2 linked regions of the Homo sapiens genome follow. The protein of the gene in region 1 interacts with the protein of each later gene in a biochemical or structural test. Each region holds a gene or a part of one and is shown in the gene's direction. Other genes may lie near its edges. The genes, in order: CRYBA1 and CRYAA.

What was found.
Region 2: the proteins of CRYBA1 (region 1) and CRYAA form a complex in vitro, tested with the Homo sapiens proteins (2 studies listed by BioGRID).

What each region holds. Positions count from the first base shown.
Region 1 is NC_000017.11:29,248,121-29,258,081, forward strand, and holds the end of CRYBA1 (beta-crystallin A3), read left to right. Parts: intron 1-1,021; coding exon 1,022-1,086; intron 1,087-2,061; coding exon 2,062-2,180; intron 2,181-3,943; coding exon 3,944-4,085; intron 4,086-5,519; coding exon 5,520-5,662; intron 5,663-6,081; coding exon 6,082-6,229; 3' UTR 6,230-6,374; downstream 6,375-9,961. UniProt on the Homo sapiens protein: Crystallins are the dominant structural components of the vertebrate eye lens.
Region 2 is NC_000021.9:43,161,240-43,173,555, forward strand, and holds CRYAA (alpha-crystallin A chain), read left to right. Parts: upstream 1-7,768; 5' UTR 7,769-7,860; coding exon 7,861-8,049; intron 8,050-8,996; exon of another isoform or gene 8,997-9,092; coding exon of another isoform or gene 9,093-9,170; intron 9,171-9,277; coding exon 9,278-9,400; intron 9,401-9,797; exon of another isoform or gene 9,798-10,343; intron 10,344-10,831; coding exon 10,832-11,041; 3' UTR 11,042-11,566; downstream 11,567-12,316. UniProt on the Homo sapiens protein: Contributes to the transparency and refractive index of the lens. In its oxidized form (absence of intramolecular disulfide bond), acts as a chaperone, preventing aggregation of various proteins under a wide range of stress conditions.

The sequences.
Region 1 (9,961 bases):
AAAAAAAAAGAAAAAGAAAAGCAGAAAGAGGCCAGATAAGGATGAGACCGTGAAGGGTTACGAGGGAGTCTGGGGCTTGGGATCCTGGCATGGCTGGCTGTTTGGCCAGTCACATGAGGGGTCTGGCCTAGGTGGTTGCCAAAGAGTTTATATTGCAGACAGAGGTAATGCTGTCACCTGAAAGCAAGTGAGAGGACAGGGTCTCAGTGCTTTACCTGCATTATTGTTTCTGATCCTTGTTTTTTTTCTTTTTTTTTTTTTTGAGATGGAGTCTCACTCTGTTGCCCAAGCTGGAGTGCAGTGGCACGATCTCAGCTCACTGCAACCTCTGCCTCCCGGGTTCAAGCGATTCTCCTGCCTCAGCCTCCCGAGTAGCTGGGACTACAGGCGTGTGCCATCATACCCGGCTAATTTTTGTATTTTTAGTAGAGACGGGGTTTCACCACGTTGGCCAGGCTGGTCTCAAACTCCCGACCTCAGGTGATCCGCCCGCTTTGGCCTCCCAAAGTGCTGGGATTACAGGCGTGAACCACCGTGCCCGGCCTATTATTTCTGATCCTTACAATAACTGCATGTCGAAGCTTTACCAATGGAAAAACTGAGGCTCAGGCTGGGCGCGGTGGATCACTTGAGGTCAGGAGTTTGGGACCAGCCTGGCCAACATGGTGAAACCCCCATCTCTACTAAAAATACAAAAACTAGCTGGACATAGTGGTGCATGCCTGTAGTCCCAGCTACATGGGAGGCTGAGGCGGAAGGATCACTTGAGCCCAGGAGGCAGAGGTTGCAGTGAAGTGAGATTGTGCCACTGCACTCCAGCCTGGATGACAGAGAAAGACCCTGTCTCAAAATAGCAACAACAACAACAACAAACCCCGAGGCACAGCTAGTGAGCAGCAGAGCCAGAATTTCAACCAAAGTCTGTCTTGCAGACTTCAAGTCTCCTTTACCTTTCAAGGCATTCCCTCACCTCCCCCTCCTCCCAAGAGGCCACATCATTCGTGTGTGCTCTGTCTTCCAGAAACCCTTCCAACCACCAAGATGGCTCAGACCAACCCTACGCCGGGGTCCCTGGGGCCATGGAAGGTAAGCCCACCCCCATCACATCCAACAGGGCAGGGGTGACATGCTGCACAGAGCAGGCCCCAGGCCTGTGCTCGTCCATAAGGCAGTGACTGACCAGAAAAACCCCAGTTTGTAGGGGAAAGGTCCACACAAGCTCCAGTGCTGTCGAAGGAAGGATCTCTCAGGATGTCCCACTGGACAAAGGAAGGATGACTGTGGATGCCATTGATGGGTGGGAGATGATACCTAGTTTCCTAACTCCTCTCTCCTCCCCACTAAAGTCATCTTAAAATACAGCAGCCCAGCAACAGTTATGTCCATGGAGAAAATGAGGGCCCATAAAGATATTTACTACTAGATCCCAAATAAATTACAGGACTCAGCCTCCCATCCTGAGGTTGGCTTTAACCATTGGCCGAAGTGGCTGATCCTCAGGCCTCTCACTGGCCTCTCTCCAACACTCCCCACTCTCCTCATTGGGTCAACTCTGAGGCCAGCTCACAGCTTTGCGAGTGGTCCTCTGGCCAGGTCCACGAGCCAGGTTTTAGTTCAATGTACAAAAAGGGTTGACCATAACTCTCCTTTACACTCTAGGTTTCTATAGGGGGTATGGCTGGAGAAGCTAAGAATCTATAAGGAGCTCCTGGGACTCCCAGAATCCTGGCCTCTGGGCCATGCTTATGAAGGAACTGTGGTGGAATGGGAGCCCATAAGTCCTTGGCCTGTCCATTGGTCTAGATATTATCCCTGGCAGACCATTTCTATCATAAACCAATCCTCCCTCCACCTCATCCCTACTCTGGGCAAATGAACACCAACCAGTGGCATTAATTCAAACCCCTTCCTGCCCTGTCTACACTGGAAGAGACCTCATCAGGCATCCCAGGCTACAGCTGGTAACAGAAAGCACAGAGTCAGACTGAAGTTAAGCTGTTGACCTGGACCTCTGTTTTTCCTGATGTTCTAGCTCTCTTGCGCCATTCAATCTCATTTCAGATAACCATCTATGATCAGGAGAACTTTCAGGGCAAGAGGATGGAGTTCACCAGCTCCTGTCCAAATGTCTCTGAGCGCAGTTTTGATAATGTCCGGTCCCTGAAGGTGGAAAGTGGCGCGTGAGTATGGACTTCCGCAGAACCGCAGCCCCTTATTTCAGGTCCCTTCAGACAGGGGACCATAGAGTGGGGATAGGGGAAGAAGGATGTTCCCCTAGGCTCTAGTCATTTCTCGGAGACAGGCCTCGAAAGAAATCACTACATGCATAATTTAGTAAGCCAAAGCTAGAAGGAAGGAACATGAGGTTCTTAGTGGCTTGGTACTAGATTTCAGGGGCTGGATAAAGAAATACATACAATGGGGTGGGACAGTGGCAGTAATCAAAATTTTGCTTCTGGAGCTCACAGGCTGCTACCTAGGGTGCCCTCAGAACAGCCACAAGACCCTTGAGTTTTTCTTGCCTGCAGAAAATTGGTAGAGAAGAAAGTGTCAAGTGGCTGCCTCTTCATGGCTAACTCTCCTCCTGCATATCCCAGAGCAGACACTGTTAGCTAATTTCTTTATGAAAAAAAAAACCTTAACCCCACGACTCCAGAGACATATTAGCTCCTGATTCATCTTTCAGGCAGTTTCTTGTTGATGGTTAATCTTGGTGAGGGAGACCCTCTCATTTTTGTCCTCTGACTCTTGGCAGAGTAGTTGAGGCCTTTATCATTAGCCTGAAAATACCTAAGGAAAAGACTCACCCTTGACTAGGCAGAATTGGCCTTGCATGTGGATAGGCTTCCACAAGTTGCTTGCCACCAAAATTAAGCTCTTCAGTCCTTTAAAAGATGTAACACTTTAAGGTGTCATCACTAACTGAGACCCAGTTGTGAAAAACTGAGCTGAGTGTTTCAAGTTTTAAGTACAGGTATGGGGCACTAGGAGAAAGAACTCGCAAGTCACAGGAAGAAAAAAGACTAGTAATCCATCAGTTGCTTGTTCATCCCTGTGCTTTCTTAAGAAGAAGCCAACAGGTTTGGCTTGAGCCAAAGCAATAGTCCAGGGGTGTCTAATCTTTTTGGCTTCCCTAGGCCACACTGAAAGAATTGTCTTGGGCCACATATAAAATACCATAACGATAGCTGATGACCTAACAACAACAAAAACAACTCATAATGTTTTGAGGAAGTTTACAAATTTGTGTTGGGCTGCGTTCAAAGCTGTCCTGAGCTGCATGCAGCCCTTGGGCAACAGGTTGGACAAGCTTGCAACAGTCACTAGATCCTGAAACAGGTAGAGAATAGGTGATTTGGAGAAAAAGAAAAAAAAATTTTTTTTTTTTTTGAGGCAAGGTGTCACTCTGTTGCCCAGGCTGGAGTGCAGTGGCACAATCATGGCTCACTGCAGCCTCCACCTCCAAGGCTCAACCCTCAGCCCCCTGAATAGCTGGGACTGCCAGTAGTGGGTCACCACGCCTGGCTAATTTTTGAGTTTTGTAGACGGGGTTTCGCCATGTTTCCCAGGCTGGTCTCCAACTCATGGGCTCAAGCGATCTGCTTGCCTTGGCCTCCTGAAGCGTTGGAACTACAGGCGTGAGACACCACACCCAGCCAGGAAATATAATTTTAGATTGGCTTTGCTAATACACTTCACTCAGACCAGTGAAGTAGATAGACCTTTTCAGTGATAACCCCCAAACAAATATTACATTCACTAACCTGCTTAGTATACCTGTCAACTCATTCCTCAACTCTTGTGACAAATTACTTTGTACAGCTCTACTGGGATTGGCTTGATATTTTACCCCACTATTGACTTATCTAAAACGAAAGATGCCTTCTCCCCAAGGCCATATAGGCTTTGAACACCATGAACAAACACTACATGTCTTTGGCAGCTGGATTGGTTATGAGCATACCAGCTTCTGTGGGCAACAGTTTATCCTGGAGAGAGGAGAATACCCTCGCTGGGATGCCTGGAGTGGGAGTAATGCCTACCACATTGAGCGTCTCATGTCCTTCCGCCCCATCTGTTCAGCTGTGAGTCTCTGAAATTTCCACTTCCGTGCATATGAGGGATGGGACAAGAGGGTGTGGACAGACTGACGTTCATGCTATTTATCATCAGTTATGCTGAATGTGGCAGGAAAAAAGACAAAAGTAAAAAAAGAGAAAACATCACTTTCTTCTCTAAGCCTGCTATTTGATTTTTCTCCACCAGGTGGTACTTCCCTTAAGCTAAAACTAAGGGTCTTACAAGTGGCAATAAGTGGATACTCAAGAGCCCAGTAAACTTGTGAAACACTAGTAAATGAGTGAAAGTGCTTACCCTGCAGCAAAAAGTAAATCCTTGGCCAGTTAAATTTCAATCTGTGTAACATTTTTACTGCAGAAACAGGAAAATGCTGAAGTAACCTTTCAGTAAGTGGGAATGACTGACGAAATAGGCAAGTCTTCCAGTATCGATCTACACTGATTGATAATAATCTTCTTGTTCTGAACACTTAAGTATTACTCAATAATGCATCAGGCTGGGATGTTTCTGGTCTTTGGAAACAGTTCAAGCAGAAAGCAGAATGACCTTAAGGGGTGTGTTGAAAATGATCCCTGTATTAGGAGTTAGGTTGGGCTAGAACCTTTCCAAATATTCAGTCTATGTGAGAGTTTCTCGTGATTTTGGTTAATAATCTCATCTTGGTTCAAAGTCTTGCCAAAATTCAACTGGTGGAGAAGTTAACCTAAATAGTTCTAATCCAAATAAATAGTTGCCTGTCTGGAAATTATTTCAATCTCACTTTTAAAAACATTTCATTTGCCCACCCTAAGGTATAACTGACATACAGTAAAATGCACAGACCCTAAGTGAATATTCTCATGAGTTTTTGAAAAATATATAGATCCATGTAACCAACACCCTAACCATATAAAGAACATTCCATCATAGTTCCCTGGTGTCCCTTTCCACTCAATTGCTCCCCTACCACTTTCTATTACCAAACAGTTTTGTCCATTTTTGAAGTTCATACAGGTTAGTCTCTGTCTTTTTAATGCTTGTGTAGTATTCATGTCCCCTACTGGACATACAGGTTATATCCAACAACACACATACACACGCAAGCGCACACATACATATTTGGGCTTACTTTTTGTAATAATCTGTGAGATCTTTTTTCACATTAGTGAATATTAATCCCTTGGTTGGCTGCATTTTGTTAGTACTTTTTCTCACTGTCAAATCCTCTTCATTGTTCCAAAATAGTATATCAGTTATTTGTACATTCAAAATGTTATGGTATTTAAATTGGAATAAACAAAATTATGGGTAACTTTTTTCTCACAAATCTGTTGCCTTAATCTTTTTAAATTATCATGTGCTTCCTTGTATAATCCAAAAGTGTTTCAATTTTGAAAAACATGAAGAATGATAGCCATAGCACTAGTACTAAACATTTTAAAACAATTTCTGAATTACAGAATCATAAGGAGTCTAAGATGACCATCTTTGAGAAGGAAAACTTTATTGGACGCCAGTGGGAGATCTCTGACGACTACCCCTCCTTGCAAGCCATGGGCTGGTTCAACAACGAAGTCGGCTCCATGAAGATACAAAGTGGGGCGTAAGTACAAAAACAGGGTTGGAATATACTTCAAAGTAACTCCTGAGGTTGCATCAATAGTTATGTTTTAATCAGATTTCATACGTATCGGTATAGATGTCACATTCTAGTTCTACATAATTTTGAATCTCAATTTCTTTATACCAACTACCACTTTAGGTTGCAGATTTATCTCCCCCAGACATGCCTCTATGGAAGAATTTACGTTGACTACTTATACCTGTTTTGATGATTAAGGCTAATTAACTAGCTATAGCCATATTATGCTTACAAATAGTGCCTGACACATTTAGGATGGCTATTTTTTCTAAGCCTAAAAGCATCTCATACCATTGTGTTGAGTAAAGAGGCTCAGGTTTTGGGGTATTAACCAGATTCCTAATTAGTTTTAATAATGAAATGTACTTTGAATTTCCTAGCTGGGTTTGCTACCAATATCCTGGATATCGTGGGTATCAGTATATCTTGGAATGTGACCATCATGGAGGAGACTATAAACATTGGAGAGAGTGGGGCTCTCATGCCCAGACTTCGCAGATCCAATCGATTCGCCGAATCCAACAGTAGCTGATTAAAAGCTCCAAGTACGATAATTCCTCAAGCATGAGACCTTGCTAAGCACTCTAGAATAAGTTTTATGTTCTGCTCACAGACATTGCTTTCAAATGTTAGCTGCTGAAATCCACAATAAACGTCATTTAAAAAAAAAAAACTTTGTAGACTGAATTAACTACCATGCTTCACATAAATCACACCTAAGTGGATGAGAATTTTTTTTTTTTTTTTAGTTATTTTGCTCTTGTTGCTCAGGCTGGAGTGTAATGGCGCTATCTTGGTTCACCACAACCTTCGCCTCCCGGGTTCAAGTGATTCTCTGCCTCAGCCTCCCGAGTAGCTGGGATTACAGGCATGCACCACCACACCTGGCTAATTTTGTATTTTTAGTAGAGACGGGGTTTCTCCATGTTGGTCAGGCTGGTCTCGAACTCCCGACCTTAGGTGATCTGCCCGCCTCGGCCTCCCGAAGTGCGGGATTACCGGCGTGAGCCACCACGCCCGGCCTGTGGATGAGAATTTTTGTTGTTGTTGAGACAGGGTCTCACTGTCACCCAGGCTGAAGTGCAGTGGTGCGATCTGGCTTACTGCAGCGTCATTCTCCTGGGCTCAAGTGATCCTGCCTCAGCCTCCTGAGTAGTTGGGACTACAGGTGCCTGCCACTATGCCTGGCTAATTTTTGTACTTTTTGTAGAGATGAGGTCTCACTATGTTGCCCAGGCTGGTCTCGAATTCTTGGGCTCAAGTGATCCACCCACTGTGGCTTCCCAAAGTGCTGGGATTACAGGTGTTGAGCCACTGCGCCTGTCTGGATGAGAATTTTTTAAGTCAAGCTTCCATAAAACTCCACATTCTCTTTTGTGTCCTTGCAAGTCACTCACCAGGCCAAGGACAATTATTCCTTATCTCAAAGAACAATAAAGCATATGACCTAAATGTTATCAATCTCTATAGCGACTGACACTTTTGGTAAATGTTTTTATGTCCTTTCCTCCCGTCTCCTGCTCTTTCTAATAATGTTGAAGTTGGCATTGATTTTCCTTTCACCTTGTGACAAATCAGTACTAAAGAAACAGGAAGTTTCTCCAGTGTGTACTGCCACATATTTCAACATAAAGTTATGAATAAATCCAGAATCTTGGCAACTTAACATTCTAGTTGCTCAACTGCTTAGCTCAATTTTGATTTATTTCAATTGGAAGGGCATAAGGCTTAATGTCCTGCAAAAAGGCAGGATAGCTCTGGATTTTTCAATAAGCAAGCTAATTCTAAGCACTGTAAAAACCTGTATGATTAAAAAATTTTTTTAAAATCATAGGACCATAGTATACTGAAGACTTAAATTCTTCACATATTTGACCCTTTGGAAAAAAATCATTATCAATGTCACAAACTTAGTTTTCGGTTTGTTTTTCTTTTTACTTTTTATCAGCTGAATTTAAGATTAGTCAGTAAAGACTTTTTAAAAAATTAAAGCACACAAAAGATAACAAACACCTCAGAAACTTTAAAATTTTTTATTCAACAATGTACACTTATTGTCTCTCAATTTGATCTACAAATTTCTCAAGTTTTTTTTCTGATAAAATAAGTAAATCTGGGTATGGTTGTAGAGTGTTTGTAATTTATATTTTTAAAACACTGAACATGATGAAGACATCAATAAAGGAAGATCATCACGTAAATGACACTTCCTCAGAATCCATGACATCAGAAACAGCTATAGCAAATACCTAAGCATTTAGCAAAAGGGAAAATTTCTGGTGACTGTTCTTATATGTAGAAAAGACCTATATTTTTGACTGGGCAAAACAAACATTGAAACTTTTTTTTGAGCGGGGGGAACATCCTTTAACATAACTGTACTCCACTTATTATCCATTCCCCCAGATTAAGAGGTAACTCAGCTCCTTAGTGCCTCTGCACGAGACAGAGAAATTACTTCACTCCTCCAGTAGGTTCTAAGACTGAACATAAGTGAACTACTGACAGATGCGGAAGAGGAACCATAGCCATCTAAAATGATGCTTGCTACACTCCTGCATTTCTGCCTTTTAAGGCCATGCAATTAATATGGGTCACCTTTTAAGTCTTAACTGGATAACTTAGTTTTTAACTGCCACTATCAATGAAGATACATATAGAAGGGTTTTGCTGTGTCCTCAAAGGCAACAATATACTTGATGAAGAAGTAACCCTCTTCTGTATATTGAAAAAGCTATAAAATGGAAATATTTATTTTTTATGTAGGAGCATGGGGAAAATGCTATCAGTAATATCTTCTACTTAAACATATTAGCCTCTCCTACAAAGGTCCTGAACCAATTAAAAAAAAAAAAACTTTAAAAAAGATGATTTGACAAAACCTGGGTAGTAGTACATCTACACATTATAAGTACACATACACAAAGTAAAGCTATTTAGTACATACAGATTGCAGCACTTGAACCAAATGTACCCAACTCCTAAACTTGTTCTAATCAGCTTGGGCAATTTTTTAAAAGATACACGTTATCTTTAAAACAACCAGTGCTTTGATCTTACAAACAACTGAATAATTCTAATCTCAAGCCAGTCAATTCAGTAAACCAAATTTATGCTAAAGCAATAAAGGTAAAAGCCTATCCTACCTTTAAACCAGCTTTAAGACAAAAAATCGTCACCAAGTTCCATATGACAAAAAAGGGTCTTTCAGTTTGAATTACTTTCCATTTCTATTTGATCAAATAAACCAAAATATTACTAAGGAAGAGCATCCAATGATTTGTAAAGCTGATAAAACTGCCCTGTTTCAAGAAAAGCTCTTTAATAGATACAAGTCAAGCTCTCGTTTAAATTGAACTTTATTAAAATAGGTGCCAGTTTTCCTCTCTCCTAGTTCCACTGATGAGCTAGCCCAGAACTATGTAACTTTGAGCCAAGTTTCCAAAGATGGTAAAGCTAACAACAGCAAAGTAGTAAGGACAAATCGGTCACTTTTGGTAATGACACACAAATTAAACTTTCAAAACATGTGCATAGCTTTATTCATCTACTTAGATCTAACCTTTTCACGGAGCTTCGGCAAAATTCGAGTGTGCAAAATGCATTTCTAAAACGTAATGCAAGCAAAGCTTTCACATTTACACTGGCAGGAAATACAGAGAGAAACTAACAAGTCACATTAGGGAAAATTCAGATCTTTTTTTTTTTTAATGACAAGAATTGCACAGTTTATTATTTTGAGACAATTGTTGCAGACATAAATATTTAAAATTTTCTAAGCAAGGTGCTTTTAACAAAATTTTTAAAGTTGGAAAGAGCTGATAACTTGGATCATAGCTCACACAGAATTCCAAATTAAAGTGGACTCCATTATCTCCCTATATTTTGCAAACAATGCTTTGTATAACACTTCTTTAAAACACTAAAAGAGACAGCAAGCTGAAACTTTTTTCAAAGCACACAAGAAATGTTTACTTGAAGAAGGTGCTGAGGGGAGAAGGGAGTGAAGAATCCTTTTACTATTTCCCACTACAGGACAGCCACTAACAGACTAAGAACAAAAAAGATACAACAAAAAAAGTAAATCACTTCCCCAGCTTATAAAATAGTTCCAGTTTCGCAAGATCTGTAACTTTAAACAGAGAGCACCAGTTGGGCAATAGAATGAGCATTTCATACTGCATAAAAATTAGTGAGGTGGTAAGAACCATCGACTATCTCAGGCATTACTACATGGCGTTTCCAATTTTTTTTTTTTAA
Region 2 (12,316 bases), on another chromosome or scaffold:
GCGGTCTCTGCATCTGTGAGGGGGGACCCAGCAGCAGTGGCCCAGGGTGGGGCTGGGACTGAGGGTCAGGCCGGATGGAGCTGTGCGGCGGCACCTGGCCCACATTCTCCCTGCGGCCACCAAGACCCCAGGTGGGCACTGGCACCTTGGGCTATGCCCAGGTCCCCACCCTCAGCCTTCTCTGGAAGCTGCTGGCTCTGTGGTGACCCCCTCCCGCACCCCCTTAACCCAAGGCGGGTCCTTTGGGGCCCACTGGGTGCTCTGGCTGGGTCTGCCCTGGGCTGGTCACTCTCGCCAGGGTCTCGGTCCAGGGCACAGGCAGGAGTGACGGTTACTCTCCAGGAGGCCGGGAGAACCAAGAGACATCCAATGAGGAAGGGCTGCCCATGCTTAAAGATGTCCAGTGAGGAAGGGCCACCCGTGCCCAGGGACATCCAGTGAGGAAGGGCTGCCTGTGCCCAGGGTGATCATGTTTGCACAGACCCCGGTGTGCCTGCGGGGCTGAGCTGTTTGCCTACCCCCATGCCCTCCCCAGGTGGCAGGCTACAAGACCAGCCTTGTTCTTGCCCTTCCCAGCCCTGGCCTGGGAGTCAGACACTTGACTCGTAGCCTTGACTTCCGTGCCAGGCTGCCTGGAGAGGCCAGCCTCTTCCCGGAGGGGTCCTTGGGGCCTACTGGGCAGACCTCTCTCTCCACGGCCCTTCCTGTCCCTAGGCGGACCTTTCCCTGACCCAGCTCACACCAGCCTGGGGCCTGTGTGCTGGGGCCGGGCTCCTGCAGGCTGTCCCGGGCAGGCGCCAGGGGGCCCTGTGCCACTGGGCGGTGGTGTGGGAGGCACAGGAAGAAGCTTACCTCACCCTTCAGACATCCTGGGGGGTACCCTTGTTTCCTATATCATTTCAACCTTGGGGTCCCAGCATTGCTGGCGACGAGGCCGGCTGCAGGTTTTGGCTCAGAGGCAGACTGAGGGCAGCGCCAAAGGGCTCCAGGCCTCCCGAAACAGCCTCGGTCTGCTCACACTTGGAGGGCTGTCAGAGGCCACTGGACGCCAGCAAGAAGGTTGAGGAGCCCCAGGCCGGCGGTGCCCCCAAGGTATCTGACACCAGAGTGAGTCACAGTTTTGAATATTCCATCCTCCATACCGCAAAATTATTTTCAGGATAGTTATGTAATAATCACGGATAATCATGATTTTCTTGATTCATTCTTTAAAGCAATTAACAGAAAAAGAATGCATTTCAATGTTAAAGATATTCAAATTCAGTGACTTCTTTCATGCATGAGCTAACATCTCAGCTTCAGCACCACATCTCCGTTTTCGCTCTGGTTTCACAGTCTCACATTTGAAACACAGAATAAAAACACCAAGAGGTCATGCAGAATGACAGAACTGAAATACTTCCAGCTCGGTTTCTTTGTGAGTGCTGTTGTTGTTATGTGAAATTTCTCGTTTAAGCACAGAAATATGTTGAACCACGGGCTGGAGATGAGAACCCCTCCCCCAGTGCACCTGCACCCGCCCTTCAAAGCCGCTCCAAGCCAATGCAGGTGGCTGCGTCTGCAGTGTCGGGAGTGGCCCCATGACTGGAAGTTCACTGGAAAATTTCCACTCAGTAAATGTTTAGAACAAGAAATAAAACTGTGCTAATGTGAAGATTACAGAAATATAGTCTATCCTCATGACTCATGCATTCCAGATTTGGGAATTCCCTGTGATGTCAGTGTGCCAGGGACCACAGACTGGATGGCTTAAACAACAGACATTTGTTGTCTCACAGTCCTGGAGCCTGGAAGTCCAAGATCGCAGGGTCGGTGGGGCCGGTTCCTTCCTGTGCTTGCAGACGGGCCTCTTCTTGTTGTGCCCTCATGTGGACTTTCCTCTGTGTGCATGTGTTCTTGGTGTCTCTTTTTGGAATTTGTCCAGATTTCCTCCTCTTTTTTTTTTTTTTTTTTAAGACAGAGTGAGACTCTGTCGCCAGGCAGGAGTGCAGTGGTGCAATCTCGGCTCACTGCAGCCTCCGTTTTCCGGGTTCAAGTGATTCTCCTGCCTCAGCCTCCCGAGTAGCTGGGACTACAGGTGCATGCCACCATGCCTGGCTATTTTTTTGTATTTTAGTAGAGACGGGGTTTCACCATGTTGTCCAGGCTGGTCTTGAACTCCTGACCTCGTGATCCACCCGCCTTGGCCTCCCAAAGTGTTGGGATTACAGGCGTGAGCCACCGCGCCCAGCTGATTTCCTCTTCTTATAAGGAAGCCAGTCACATGCATTAGGGCTCACCCAAATGACCTCCTTTTAACTTAATTTCCTGAGAGATCCTATCTCCAAATACAGTCACACTCTGAGGTCCTGGGGTTAGTACTTCAACACAGGAATTTTTTGGGAACTCAGTTCAGTCCATGACACCTACTTGGTCAAATTTATTTGTAGGCTGGGCACGGTGGCTCACGCCTGTAATCCCAGCACCTCTGGAGGCCAAGGTGGGAGGATCGCTTGAGCCTAGGAGTTCAAGACCAGCCTGGGCAACATAGCAAGCAAGACCCCGTCCCTACAAAAAAATTACCAAAAAAATTTATTTGTGACCCCAAATCAATAATTGCAGAGTTTTCCTGGTCATTCACAGATGTGTAGAGAGTGCCGAGACATTTGTCTCCTTACACATATTCCTGGGTGAGGTTGAACAAGGCAGCACTATGCCCTCTTGTTTCAGCCTCAGGCGGTCAACCAGTATCCTTTTTGAGGTCTATTTAGTGCCATGATTTTTGCATTTCGTGTGTTTTGTTTGTGATTTTGCTTTTTAAAACGTCCCCAAGCCCAGTGCTGAAGAGCTGTGTGCTTGGAGGCATTTTTAAGTAAGTGGATTAAGCACTTCAGTTAAAATGCAGAAATTGTCCAAACAGATTAAAAACATTATCTAATTATATGCTGTCTACAAGAGACACTTTAGATTCAAAGACACAAATAGTTTGAAAGTAAAAGATTTCTAAAAATATGCCATACAAATGGAAACCCAAAGACAGTTTTGGTTACTGTTTGGTTACTCTTCAGCTTTGTGCTTGGGGGCATTTTAAACAGCAAAATCACGAACAAAACACACAAAACTGCAAAAGGTAAGCAAGCTGCAGTGCATCTCACAGAGGAAACACGGGTTAGAGAAGCTTCCTTCGGGCAGAGCTACAGGGCTGCTGGCCATGAGTTCAGTGTTAGTGAATCAATGTTTATAGATTCAGTAAAGCATCTTTTTTTTTTTTTTCTTTTTTGGAACAGAGTCTCATTCTGTTGCCCAGTCTGAAGTGCAGTGGCACGATCTCAGCTCACTGCAACCTCCACCTCCTGGGTTCAAGCGATTCTCCTGCCTCAGCCTCCCAAGTAGCTGGGATTACAGGCCTGCACCATCACGCCTGGCTAATTTTAGTATTTTTAATAGAAATGGGGTTTCACCATTTTGGCTAGGCTGATCTTGAACTCCTGGCCTCAGGTGATACACCCGCCTTGGCCTCCCAAAGTGCTGGGATTACAGGCGTGAGCCACCACGCCTGGCCTCAGTAAAGCATCTGTACACAGAAACACTCATAAGACAAATGATGCATTGCTCAGCTGATGAGAACATTGGGGCCAGAGGCTCGCAGGACCCTAAGCCTGTGTCTCCCCTGGGAGCCATGGTTCAGCAGTCCAGGCATCACTAATTCAGTGCTCACAGCAGCTTTATAGAACACCCCTACCTCTAGAAACAACTGCTATGAATGCAGCAATTGCTAGAACTTAGCCCAGCAAAAGGGGATTTTGTGCTGACATGATTTGCATGGACAGTGGCTGGGAATCAGGAAAAGAACACTGACTTGTCTTTGGTTTCATTCTGGTTTTTCATTTTCCGCAGACATCATATCCCTCAGTGCACTGGCTGTCACCTCCCCCTGCCCGCCACCTGCACACTGTGGCTTTGAGGCAGCATCTTCAACACAAATTTCAGGAGGAGCCCAGGTCCAGAGCAAAAGGGTCTTGTTTCCCCAGAATCCAGGCGAATGGCGCAGGGCTCTGGCAGGCGGATGCACTGACATCAGCGTGCATTTACTTGTTTGTTGCTTGTCTCTACCCAAGAGAATATCAGCTCCAGAAAAGCAGGGACTTTGTTTAACACAGCGTTAAGAGACAGGACTCGACCAGTGTGGATCAATTAAGTGAGGATGTTTGCACAGCAGGCTCCGGGCCAGCGAGTGGGGGTTAAGGCTCCTGAAAGTAGCCGGCTTTGAGATGTGGTGGGGGTGATCCTGAATTATCCAGGTGGGCTGAGAGCGTAATTGCCAGGTGGATGTGATGGGAGAGACCTCACCGCCCACCACTGCCTTTGAAGGTGGAGGAGGGGCCACGAGCCAAGAAAGGCAGGTGCCTTGAGATGCCAGAGAAGGCAAGAAACAGACTCCCCTGAGCCTCCAGCAGGAGCCAGCCCTGCCAGTGTCTTGCTTTAAGTTGAATGAGACACATTTCAGACTTGTGGCCTCCAGAACTGTGAGAGAAGACGTTTGTGTTGTTTTAAGCCACTAAGTCTGTGATTGGTACATCAGCCACAAGACACTAATACAACACCTAAACTCGGGGTTTGAAAAGGCCCCTAGGGCCCTAGAGCCCTCCCTGCCCCCGGTCCAGGCCTTCCTGCTTCTGTTGTGCAGACTCAGGCGCTGGCTCACTCAGAAGCCCCCTGCAGGCCCGGCCAATCCTGTGGCAGAGCCTCGACGTCCCACGGCGGCCTCTGAGCCGCCAGGCCCTACAGCGTGTGGTGAGGGGCGCAAGAGGTGTGAGTGCCTGGACCTTGCTCTGCCCCGTGTCTGAGGACCTTGCCCTGCCCCGTGTCTGAGGACCTTGCCCCATCCTCGGCACCCAGAGCTGTGCAGTCCATAGGACCAGGCTGGTGCCCAGCCCCAGGTTGGTGCCTCAGCTGCCTCCTCAGCCTGCAGTCTCCACTGTTTGACTGACCATGTGCAGGGCCAGCTGTGAAGGACAGCACAGCTCCTCCCTCCCTGCCAAGTGTCAGGGGCACTAAAAACACTGCCATCAATGTTCTGATGTTTAAATCATGTTTTGATGCAATGTTTAAACAAATCAAAATGGGTCGGGCGCAGTGGCTCACGCCTGTAATCCCATCACTCTGGGAGGCCGAAGCGAGTGGATCACCAGAGATCAGGAGTTCGAGACCAGCCTGGCCAACACGGCGAAACCTCATCTCTACTAAAAATATAAAAATTAGCTGGGTGTAGTGGTGTGTGCCTGTAATCTCAGCTACTTGGGAGGCTGAGGCAGGAGAATCGTTTGAACCCGGGAGGCAGAGGTTGCAGTGAGCTGAGATTGTGCCACTGCACTCCAGCCTGGGCGACAGAGCGAGACTCCATCTCAAAAATAAATAAATAAAATAAATAAGTAAATCAAAATGAATGCAAAAAATTTGTGGTGGACAAACTGTCAACATTTTACATAAAGCCAGGATGAGGACGACGGCCTTCTCCTTTTGCTTCAAGCTCCAGCATGGCTCTGCCCAGCACTGACCGTGCTCCTGGCCTGGCTCGACCCTCCCCAGGGCCAAGCTCCATGCTGGTTTCCATCCCAAAGGACTCTTCTTCCCCCTCCCTGTGCCCCGGGAATAGGCAGCCAGCACAGTGGGGCCGCCCGCTGCCTCACCCAGACCCTGCCACTGCTTGGATGTTGACCCCCAGACTGGAAAGGTGGCTTTAAACCCCCTTCCCTTCTTCCAAGCCAAGTGACCTGGGCGTGCGGCTTAACCTTCTAAGCTCCCATTTCCTGGTCTATGAAGCGGGAATGATGCTGGGACCTGCTTCACAGGGTGGCTCTGAGGACCCACAGGCAGAGAGGTCTGGTGTAGGCTTTCGGGGGAAGCACCCATCACTCTCCCAGCGTTTCCTATCTGCACCTTAATTTGGCACCCCAGGGAATCGCTCCTCTGGAATTGTAACCTTGCAGGGCAAAAGCTATCATTTCAAGATTTTTTGGGATCCTGTGTCCCCGGACAGTGCTGTAAATGTAGGAGGAAGGGTGCTGCTCATGGGTGCTGCTCATGATGGAGGTGCCCCGTGGAGCACGCCTCGGAGCCCCCCCTTTCATCCCTGATCCCATCTGGGATGTGTCAGGTCTGATCCGCATACACTGGGGCATCTGACATTTCATGGCCTTCTGAGCCCATGGGCTGGAGATGAATTTGCAAAGCCCGGGAGTGTCCTGGGTGTGTGTTCACTCCACACGCACGAATCTGTTAGAGGCTGAGTAGGAACTAGGAGGCCAAAGAGAACCAGGCAACTTCCCACAGCCTGGACCGTACACTAGAAAAGCTAGCCTGGGAGAGGGGGCATGGCCTCTTCCCAGGCTGGCAGGGGGGATGTGGGGGAGGACCATGCTCCCCAGGGCCAGTTTACCAAAATATCAAAATACCAAAATATCAAAAGACTTAAAACTAGGAGTGAGCCAGGTGCAGTGGCTCACGCCTGTAATCCTACACTTTGAGAGGCCAAGGCAGGTGGGTCACCTGAGGTCAAGAGTTTGAGACCAGCCTGGCCAACACGGTGAAACCCTGTCTCTACTAAAAATACAAAAATAATAATAATAATAATAATAATAATAATTAGCCAGGTGTGGTGGCAGGCACCTGCAGTCTCAGCTACTCAGGAGGCTGAGGTGGGAGAATTGTTTGAACCTGGGAGGCAGAGGTTGCAGTGAGCTGAGATCGCGCCACTATATGATCTGGGCGCCACTCTGGGTGACACAGCAAGACTCCATCTCAAAAACAAACAAACAAAACCGGGAGTGCCTGGACACTTAGTGAGAACTGGACAGGGGCCATGGGTCGAGGAGCAAAATAATCACCAGGACTTGTGGATAACAGGATCATGTGGGTGGTGGGTCCGCATGGGTGACAGGGACGTGGGGACATGTCGCCACCCTGACAGGAGCAGCCCAACTCAACAGCCACGGCAGGTCATGCCACGGAGGCTCGAGGCGTTACGTGGGGATGTTACATCAAGGCATTACATCATTACGAGATGTAACGCTCGAGGCGTTACATCGAGGGGACGATGGCCATGGGGCTGGGCGTCCAGGGTGGGCCGCAGAGGGAAGCTCACCACGTGGTGCTCTCATCTGCCCACAGCCCAGCCCGTCTTCCTGTTGGAGGCATGTGACCCCTGGAGGACAAGCATGAAACGCCATAGGGCTCCCCCAGGTGCTGGAATTATGGCACCTTGCAGCTTCTTCTCCACGAGTTTTAACAAGCATGCGTACTTTTGTAAGTGGTGAGTGTAACGGAGGTTCACAGATGCACTCCGCTTTGGAAACCAGTGCACTCTTGCCCAGGCCCGGTGAGACTCTGAGGACGATGTGTCTAACCTCTGTGTCTAACGGGGGTGTGTGCTCTCCCTCCTCTGGCGACCATGAGGACCACCCCGGCAGGACAAGGTGTGCAGAGAACTAGCATGGTCCCTGGCACGTAGCCCCTGCCCAGTGACTGGCAGATGAGAAGCTCCATTGTCGCCCCAGGCGAGTATGGGGCACAGGCGCCTCCTTGGGTTGTCTGCCCTCCCGGGAGCCCCAGGGTGCCCAGGCGGGCCTCAGCTGAGTCCAGGCCTCGGGGACAGTCCGTGCAGCCCCTCCTGGGGCTGGGGGCGGGCACTTGTCCCAGCCACGTTTCTGCTGACTGAGCAGCCTTCTTCATGAGCTCACGCCTTTCCAGAGAAATCCCTTAATGCCTCCATTCTGCTGGTGGCATATATAGGGAGGGCTCGGCCTTGGCTCCACACTGCGCTGCCCAGAGGCCCCGCTGACTCCTGCCAGCCTCCAGGTCCCCGTGGTACCAAAGCTGAACATGGACGTGACCATCCAGCACCCCTGGTTCAAGCGCACCCTGGGGCCCTTCTACCCCAGCCGGCTGTTCGACCAGTTTTTCGGCGAGGGCCTTTTTGAGTATGACCTGCTGCCCTTCCTGTCGTCCACCATCAGCCCCTACTACCGCCAGTCCCTCTTCCGCACCGTGCTGGACTCCGGCATCTCTGAGGTAAGACGTGGCCCGTGGTGCTGGCCTCTCCTCGCTGCTCAGAGGGTGGTGGCCTCGGTGGGTGGAGAGCGATGGACTCTGGTCTTGCTCCGTCAGGCAGGTGGCCTCGTCCCACTTCATCCCCTTGCAGAGGCTGGGCGAGAGCCTGTGTCCCCACTGCAGCCACGTGGCAGAGCTTCCCCTGGCACTGGGGAGAGGGTGGACAAGGGAGCAGCCTGAATCCACCTTTGCTTTCCTCCATCAGCTCATGACCCATGTGTGCTTTGTAAGGCACCAGCCACATACTGGAAACCCCAAGAGCAGCCCATCCAGGCATGCGTGGTGGCGAATGCCAGCTCCCGGGTTCCTCTGGTCTCCTGAGTCCCGGAGACCTGGGAGCAGGTGGGGGTCATAGTCCTGAAAGCCAGAGAGCAGGGCGTTCCTAGCACCTCCTCCAATGAGCTCGGCCTGCCCACGGCTAGCAAAGCTCTTGGCAAGTTTACTTAGGTGCCCTGCCAAGGCTAAAAGGACAGGCAATGGACGCCCCCCCCCCCACCCAACCACAGGCCTCCTCTCTGAGCCACGGGTGAGCGGTGCAGGTTCTGCTGTTCTGGAGGGCCTGAGTCCCACCCAGCACCTCATAAACAGGGTCCTCCCCAGGGCTGCTGCAGTAGGCATCAACGCCAGGGTGCAAAATGCCTCAGGGAGCCAAGGCTGAGCCAGGGGAGTGAGAAGGAGCATGTGGAAGTGCGTTTTGGAGAGGCAGCTGCGCAGGCTGTCAGCAGGCTCCGGCCGCTTCTATAGACAGCATGACACCAAGGGCAGTGACCTCATTCCACAGGCTGAGTCCAGCCAGCCAGCCAAGCATCACCAGCCAGACGATTGACCCTAACGGACCAACCAACCCGTAACGACCCCTCCTACCATAACCAGTAGCCAGCCAGCCCATAACCAGCCAACTTATCTATAACCAGCCACCTGACCATAGCCAAACAACCAGCCGGCCCACCAGTAGCATTCAGCCCCTCAGCTGGCCCTGAGGGTTTGGAGACAGGTCGAGGGTCATGCCTGTCTGTCCAGGAGACAGTCACAGGCCCCCGAAAGCTCTGCCCCACTTGGTGTGTGGGAGAAGAGGCCGGCAGGTGACCGAAGCATCTCTGTTCTGATAACCGGGACCCGCCCTGTCTCTGCCAACCCCAGCAGGGACGGCACCCTCTGGGCAGCTCCACATGGCACGTTTGGATTTCAGGTTCGATCCGACCGGGACAAGTTCGTCATCTTCCTCGATGTGAAGCACTTCTCCCCGGAGGACCTCACCGTGAAGGTGCAGGACGACTTTGTGGAGATCCACGGAAAGCACAACGAGCGCCAGGTGAGCCCAGGCACTGAGAGGTGGGAGAGGGGGGCGAGTTGGGCGCGAGGACAAGGGGGTCACGGCGGGCACGACCGGGCCTGCACACCTGCACCATGCCTTCAACCCTGGGAGAGGGACGCTCTCCAGGGGACCCCGAATCAGGCCTGGCTTTTCCCCAAGGGAGGGGCCGTGCCCACCTGAGCACAGCCAGCCCCTCCCGGTGACAGAGGTCACCATTCCCGAGCTAATGTGGCTCAGGGATCCAGGTTAGGGTCCCTTCCCGGGCTGCACCCAGCCGTCGCCAGCTCCATCCCTGTCACCTGGATGCCAGGGTGGTCTTAGAAAGAACCCCAGGAAGTGGGAGTGCCCCGGGTGGCCGCCTCCTAGCCAGTGTACATCTTCACATGAACCCTACCTGAGGAAGCCAGTCCCCGACGGCATAGCTGCATCCGCTTGGAATGCTTTACAGGCATTGACACCTTCGCCTCACAGCAGCACTTTGGAACCAGTGTCCTCATTATTCCAGGGCACGGCTGGGGAACAAGGGGGTCCTCAGCCTGCTGGGTCCCACAGCTAGTACCGGGCAGGTGGACGGGAGCTTCTCCCCACAGTCACCCTGATGCCCCGCTCTTGCTCGGCTGGAGGCCTCGGATCTCCGTGGTGTTGAGGGAGCCGGGGCACTGGAGCCCTGGTGACCTGCATCTCCTGGCGGAGCCGGGAAGAGCTCATGGACTGTCACAGATGGACAGTGCCCCGCGGGGGCTGGAGAGCAGAGTGGGGCTGGAAGGTGGAACTCTTAGCCAAAGTCTTGGTTTCTTTTGGCCAGGGTCCTCTTTCAATGGCTGGAGAAGGTGGTGCTGGGGGGTGAACGCTGACCTCCTCATGTGCTGCCCCTCCCTCGCCTGGGCCCGGTAAAGCCCCCACGTAGCCCCAGCCAGCCTGGAACATGCTTCCTGAGCTCCCAGCTCTTGGTCTTTGCACCCAGTGGAGGAGGAGGTCAGCCCAGGGAGCTGAGTCTGCGGTTTAGGGCGTCCAGGGGACGTGGAAGCATGTGGGTCGTCTGGCCACATTAGGTAGGGCTGCAGAGACCTGGGCTAGAGCAGTCCTGCGGGGTCTGGAAGGGGAAGACTGGCTGAGGTGCGGGGCCTGGTCTGGAATGATCCTGCGATTTTGGAGTGAAGCCATGGAGCGGGAAGAGACAACCCCCCGCGGGGAATAGCCCGGCAAGTGGCCACGAGGCCAGGCTGAGGTCCAGAGAAGCAGGGGCATGAATCCATAAATCCCAGGGGGCCTGGCCATGGGATGTGCTGGCTGCACCCGGCCCCTGTGAGAGCCCCCGCAGGCTGGCCCCCTTCTGCAGTCAGTGGGGCTGGGGCAGCTTCTCTGGCATGGGGCGAGGCAGCCGCCTGCACAGTGGCCCCCCTGACTGTGCGCCCCCACCCTCTCCAGGACGACCACGGCTACATTTCCCGTGAGTTCCACCGCCGCTACCGCCTGCCGTCCAACGTGGACCAGTCGGCCCTCTCTTGCTCCCTGTCTGCCGATGGCATGCTGACCTTCTGTGGCCCCAAGATCCAGACTGGCCTGGATGCCACCCACGCCGAGCGAGCCATCCCCGTGTCGCGGGAGGAGAAGCCCACCTCGGCTCCCTCGTCCTAAGCAGGCATTGCCTCGGCTGGCTCCCCTGCAGCCCTGGCCCATCATGGGGGGAGCACCCTGAGGGCGGGGTGTCTGTCTTCCTTTGCTTCCCTTTTTTCCTTTCCACCTTCTCACATGGAATGAGGGTTTGAGAGAGCAGCCAGGAGAGCTTAGGGTCTCAGGGTGTCCCAGACCCCGACACCGGCCAGTGGCGGAAGTGACCGCACCTCACACTCCTTTAGATAGCAGCCTGGCTCCCCTGGGGTGCAGGCGCCTCAACTCTGCTGAGGGTCCAGAAGGAGGGGGTGACCTCCGGCCAGGTGCCTCCTGACACACCTGCAGCCTCCCTCCGCGGCGGGCCCTGCCCACACCTCCTGGGGCGCGTGAGGCCCGTGGGGCCGGGGCTTCTGTGCACCTGGGCTCTCGCGGCCTCTTCTCTCAGACCGTCTTCCTCCAACCCCTCTATGTAGTGCCGCTCTTGGGGACATGGGTCGCCCATGAGAGCGCAGCCCGCGGCAATCAATAAACAGCAGGTGATACAAGCAACCCGCCGTCTGCTGGTGCTGTCTCCATCAGGGGCGCGAGGGGCAGGAGGGCGGCGCCGGGAGGGAGGACAGCGGGGTCTCCTGCTCGCGTTGGACCCGGTGGCCTCGGAACGATGGGGTCGCCTGCGTCCCTTCCTTCTCCTGAGCTCAAGCGCCTCCCTCCACACTGGGCTGGAAGGAGAGGTTTTGGGGGCAGAGCCTCTGATGGGAAAGGGACTGGGGAGCACTTCCGAGAGCTGGGGGCGGGGAGGGACCTGGAAGGGGCTGCAGGGAATGGAGGGAGGCCGGGCTCCTTTCTCTGTCCGCGCCGGCACCGGGGCGGGACGCCAGCCCTGGCCTCCTTCTGCGGGGCCGTCCGGTTCTCTCGGGGTCTGCTGGGTCGTCCTGTTCTCTCGGGGGTCCTGCTGCCTTCGGGGCTGGGCTTTAAGGGCACTCGTGCTTTTGAGGAGGTGGAACTCGGCAGCTTCCCCTGGGCAACCCATCATGGCCCCGAGCTGGAGGCGGAAGCTCGCTCTGTCCCCTCCCGGGACCAGACACTGGGCGGCCATGCCAGACCCCGCCACGGGGAGGGAGACTCGGCCTGGGGGGCCCTGGCTGCCTGCTGCGCTCACCGAGGGGCATCCGGGGGGCCAGAGGGCACCCAAGGGGAAGCAGACGCCACGGCGGGTGGGCCCTGCCAGCGCCCTCAGCCAAGTAAAGCGCCCTCGACCCCGGAGGCCGAAGGCACCGGGACCCTGAGGCACTGGGACCC